Regions from separate parts of the Homo sapiens genome. Here region 2 is linked to region 1. The links come from fine-mapping of genetic effects on gene expression. Tissue or cell type: aorta. Region 1 holds a variant in brackets; the other region holds the start of a gene. All regions are shown on one strand. Distances are between the middles of the regions.

Evidence for each region. PIP is the estimated chance that this variant, and not a neighbour inherited with it, causes the effect.
Region 2: DMTN starts here. The variant in region 1 is fine-mapped to the expression of DMTN in aorta (GTEx, PIP above 0.99). The same link has a PIP of 0.9 or more in atrial appendage.

What each region holds. Positions count from the first base shown.
Region 1 is chr8:22,093,234-22,095,910 of GRCh38, forward strand. It overlaps FHIP2B (FHF complex subunit HOOK interacting protein 2B), which reads left to right. Exons shown (of 17, transcript NM_022749.7): 2 at 1,207-1,285. Among named protein-coding and RNA genes, the nearest start is that of FHIP2B, 5.4 kb to the left of the region's middle. RefSeq lists an enhancer at 782-1,282. The variant C/T (reference allele first, on the strand shown) is at 1,461.
Region 2 is chr8:22,055,733-22,058,409 of GRCh38, forward strand. It overlaps DMTN (dematin actin binding protein), which reads left to right and starts at 1,082. Exons shown (of 16, transcript NM_001387751.1): 1 at 1,082-1,404. RefSeq lists an enhancer at 2,200-2,677.

The sequences.
Region 1 (2,677 bases):
AGAAATGCACAGCTGTGGGGAGGGATGATTAGAATTCTTTTTTTCCTGAAAACATTTACTCTGCAAGAAAAGCGAAGGAATGGTGTTGTTGTTGTTGTTGTTGTTGTTTTTGAGAAGTTTTCAGGGAAAGTGATTGTTCTCAGTGCAAGGCCAGTATCAGCCATGGTGTAGAGATGGAGAGAGCACTCATGGAAAAGGGGGAGGTTAGGGGCTTGCCCAGAGCAGAACCAGAATTTTCCAGGGCTTGATAGAAGGAGCCGGTAGAGGAGGAAACGAGAACAGCACTGGCTGAGGAGTTGGGGTTGTGCAGGCTCAGGCTTTGGACACAAGATGAAAGCATGTAAGCATGTTATAAGGAAGGCACATTGTTAATATCATGCTAATGTTACCTACCCTTCCGGCTGAACAGAGCCTGTGGTGGTCTTGAACAGATTTTCATAGACTCTCAGATTGAGAGGAATGGAAAAGCTTTGTCTTTTTTTTTTTTTTTTTTTTTTTTTTGAGATAGGGTCTCACCTTGTCACCTAGGCTGGAGTGCAGCGCTGCGATCACAATTCACTGAAGCCTTGACCTCCCTGGGCTCAGGTGATCCTCGCACCCCAGCCTCCCAAGTAGCTGGGACTATAGGCAGACACCACCACGTCCTGCTAGTTTTTAAATTGTTTATAGAGACAGAGCTTCATCATGTTGCCGAGGCTGGTTTAAACTCCTGGACTCGAGCCGTCTGCCCACCTTTGCCTCACAAACTGTTGGGCTTACAGGCGTGAGCCACTGCACCTGACCTTTGCCACATTTTCGATCTGTATCATTTTGCTTTTCTTTGGGGGACTGCGCTCCCGTGTTCCTCTATGTGCCTCTACTGTAGCGTAACCATGCTGTGTTGAAATAATCTGTGTCTGTTTCCCCCAGCAACATTCTTAGCACCTCCAGGACAGAGACAGGACAGGATTGTGACATACAGCAAGAAAACAGCATTTCCAGGAGGGAGGGGTATCTAGGGAGAAGTGCCTGTCAGGAGATCCTTGGCAAGATGACAGTGTGTCCTGGAGGAAATGTGTTATTCCTCCCTTTGAAAGCCAGGGAGCAGGGTGCCTCCTCATGAGGAGGCCTAGCATGAACCTGACACTCAGAATATCTGTTCCCATGCGGGCAGGGGCTCCCTGGCCTTTGTGGCCCCCACTGAGGTTGTGTGTCTGCCCTCCGCAGCGCGAGCCCAGCATTGACCTGCTGCAGGCCTTCGTGGAGCACTGGAAGGGCATCACGCACTACTACATCGAGAGCACAGGTGCGGCCTGGCCCTCCCCAGCCCAGGGACCCTGGAGGGAGCGGGGAGGAAGGAGTGTGCAGAGTGTCACCATTCAGGTGTCCTGGGAAAGGTAACCTGCCCAGTCGTTCAGAATTGGAGCCGAGTTCACGGAGACAGAGAACCAGACAGACAGAAGACCCAGAGCCCTGGGCCA[C/T]TCCACTCCTGATGATTTAGCTGCCGGTCCCACTCTGACCTTTTGGAAAGAGGCTGTGTGAGGAAGGAGTAGCCTGGTTGGGGGTCTCACTGGCCTGACTCTGCAAGGAAGAGGTGGCTGCACTTCCCCCAGCTTCCAGCTCCAGACCTTCAGGCCCCAGGTGCTTGTGCCTAGGATTTAATGATCAAAAGAAAAGAATTTAATAAATTCCCCTTTCCCCTGAGCCAGCTTAGGGGCAATGTCCTTGTAGAGATCTGGGGTAGGAGGAGAACGAAAACCAAGGTGGGTAACATGCCTGGGTCCCTCTCTCCAAGCTGACACCCCAAAGAGCCAAAGCCTTGGCACCTGGTCCCATCAGGACCGCTCACTGAGGGGATGGCATCTGAGTGGCTGCTCTGCAGTCATGAGGCTGCCATGGGTGGATACGGACTGGTTGCCAGGTAACCATATCCTGCATCCCTCACTTTTCCCTTCCTGGAGTTCATACTGGGGCTTGATCCCAGCCCACACCTTTCCTACAGGCTTTCTTTCCAGCCCGGGCCAGCCCAGGAAATTCAGAAATCTGTGGGACCCTCTGAGGGTTCTGCTAGACCAGGTTTCTCAATCTTGGCACAGTTGGCATTGGACCTGGAGCCTTCCCTGCGCGGGGCTGTCCTGGGCGGTGTGGGATGTGCAGCAGTAATTCTGGCCTCTACCCACTAGGTGCCAGTAGCACACCCCACCCCCGAATTGGGACAACCAGGAAGGTCTCCAGACATTGCCTCATGTTCCCTGGGGGGGAAAAGCGCACCCCTGGTTCTGAACCTATCTCTTCAGGTTAAAGATCTCTTGAAGGAGAGCCTCAGTCCACCAGCTCAGTAAGATCAGATCAGAACTGGCTGAAATTCACCTGGGGCTTCCCCCATCCAGCCCTTTCATTTCCAGAATGGTCCCTAGACCAGAAGGGTTGGAAGTGCGTGGGGCAGGCCGCCCTACTCAAGCTCCTGTTCCTTAAAGGAAAGCTAGGGGGTGCTCCAAGTCTAGCCCTGAAGCACCAGAACTTTCTTTAAAACACACACTGAGACTCTGACTGCAAAAGCCCCCACTAAGTAGCTTCCCCGTCAGGGCGTTGGTACAGGGAGCAGGACTGGGTCAGACCTGAAGGTGGTGGCACAGATGTTTTTTTCTGCTTTGTGAAAAACAGAGGCTTGCCTTCTCTGAGTGTCAGTGGGGGAGGC
Region 2 (2,677 bases), 38 kb before region 1:
TCTCTGGAGCCCATCCCTCAGGTTACTGTCCTCTCTGTCCCCACCAGCCAGATACTTTCTGTCCCCTCCTGGCCTCTTCCCTCAAGCCCCTCCCCCTGTGCTTCTCCATTCAGACACCCCAGAGCCCCCTCCCCAGATTCTAGATTTCCCCAACAACAGCTGATACCATCAGCTGACCGGCTGGGGGCAGGGTTGCCAGGGCAACGGTGAGGGCTGCCTAGGTAGGCAAGTCTGCGGTGTGGAGGTGGAGAGGACATTGGGGCCAGGGCGAGGGTCGAGGGCAAGGCTTGTTGTCCTTCCCCATCCTGCCCAGGGGGCCCGAAAGGCCAATGAGAGGCTCCTGGGGTGGTTGAGGCTTTGCTAGAGACAGGGAAGGCACATGCCTGTAAATTCTGTGCTGGGACCCAGGGGTTACCAGGCAGGAAGCTCCTTTTTCATGAAGCCACCCTAGGGAGAGATGGGGTCCTTCTCTCTCTCTGCTGCATCCCATTGGAGTTCCCAGGGGATTCAGGTTACTGAGGGGCCAGCTCAAGTCTCAGTACTGAGGACCTGGTTGCATCCCTCCATTCTACCCTCCCAGGAGAGAGCTCATCCTTGGGTAACCAATTCTGGCCTGTGCCTGCACCCCCACCTCAAGAGGCTGGGCCCCAGAGGCCTCAGTTGCTGCTGTCAGATGGTGGGGTGGTCATGAATAGGGTAGGAGGTGCAGGTGCCTGGAGAAAGCAGGCATTGTCCGCCTGGGTCATCAGTAGCCCCCTCCCTCGACCCACCGCCCACAGCAACTTGAACTCTGGCTGTTTAGGAGGAGGCTGAGGGGCTCTGGGTGCGTGTGGGTGTGTGTGTGCGTGTGAGTGCTGCAGACTGCGGTGTGGGAAAGGGAGAGGACAGTGCTGGCTGATTCTGCTTTGTCATGACGCTGGGTTAATGCTCCTCTTGTTTGAAATGGATTGAGCTGCAGCGCTGGTGGAAGAGCGCGCACATCCACACACACACCCTTGCCAGCCACACGCTATCAGCTGGAAGTGGGGAGGGCGCGGGGAGGGCGTGGGGGAGCCAGCAGCCCGCCCGCCCTCCCGCCCCCAGACGAGGACTCCCCAGCACCGGGGGATCCAGGCGGCCGTGCGTTGCAGAGAAGCAGGGTGGGGGCAAGGAGGGTGGGGGCCCAGAGGGGAGATCAGACCGCTCAGCCGAGACCAGCTCCCCTCCTTCGCCAGCTCCCACCCCGCCCACCCACCCTAAGCCGGCATTTTTCCTGTTATTTGTGCTCCGGGGAAGCGCCGCGGGGTTCCTGGAAGAGACACCTATTACCTAGGCTCCTGGGGGAAGTGACAGCCCGTGGATCTGGCCTACGCCTCTCGGGCCTCTGTGGCCTCAGAGCGTCTGGGCCACACTGTCTGGGAAGAGGTAGGTGGCAGGGTCTCCGCCTCTCCTCCCCTCTGTGGGCACTCTGGGCCACAGCGCTTGCTGGCGAGCCAGGCTTTGGGTGGCAGCAGGGTATCTGGGGGGAGCCCACTGTGGGCCCTGTTCAGTGGGAGGATGGGCCGGCCCCTGGGACCAGCTGGGCCTGATCTAATGGAACCTTCTGATCTGGGGAAGAGGGCCTGGGGTGTTCTCATCCCAAGGATGAGAACTGCTCCCAGCCCAATCCCCTCTTTGCCAGCATCTCTGCCTGGCCTACCTAGCTGAGCAGGCCAGCAATGGAAGGGATGGACTGTGGGGGCACGGGGTGGGCAGGGGAGCATTCCCTCTCTGCTGAATACTGGCCCGCTGGCCTCCCCAAAACCACTCCACATGCTCTGGGGGTTGGAGCAGTACATTTAGGGGCCTGAGGCTGTTTGTTTGGAGCCTGCTTTTTAGGGGGAGTGGGAGGAGAGCCTGCCCCCAGCCAGTGGCTGGCCAGGCTGGGGTGGGGCTGAGTGAAGAGTGAGGCTGTGGCAGGGCGCAGCTGCAAGCCCAAGCCCAGTACTCCCCCTGTGCCCGCCGCTGGGGTGCTTGAAGGGGCCAGGGCTGAGCAGACATGCAGCCCCCACAGGGTTCTGGGGCTCCCCCTCCCTAGCTCTGTCCCTCAGGGCCTAGCAGGTCCAGCCCCCTTTCTTGGGCAGACACACCCAGTGTGTCCCTTCCAGGGACCAGTTGCCTGGTTGTGAGAGTCAGGGGAGCAGGGACAGGTCCAAGACAAGGAAGGCAGTTGGGCTGTGGGAATGGGGAGCCCAGGGAAGGCCTCCAGAGCTGGGTAAGTGGAGGGCTCTGTGTATGTTGCTGTACACGTGCACTACTCTGGGATGGATGCCAGGGAGAGGACCGGTGGGTGGGTGTGAGCGGGTGTTGGCAGCACCATGTGTCACAGTGAGGGGGCCTCGATGGGAGAGTGGGGGCATGAGCTGGCACACAGGGCTTCGGAGTCTCCCCGCGTGCATGCGTCCTGCAACGGTTTCAGCGCGGGCGCTTCTGCCTGTGCCCACCTGTCCATCTTGTGTCCGTGCTGCCGGCCTCTCTGTGGTCAGGCGTTAGACTCCTGGGTGAGGTTGTCCACCCGTGGGTGGATGTCTGCAGAATCCCTCTCCTAGAGCTCCTGGGTGTTGTGGGACTGGAACAGGGAGGCCCTGGGATCCAGAAAGCTGAATTGAGGCTGCATCTCCCCCAGCTCTGCCAGTCCCACTTGTACAACAGGACCAGC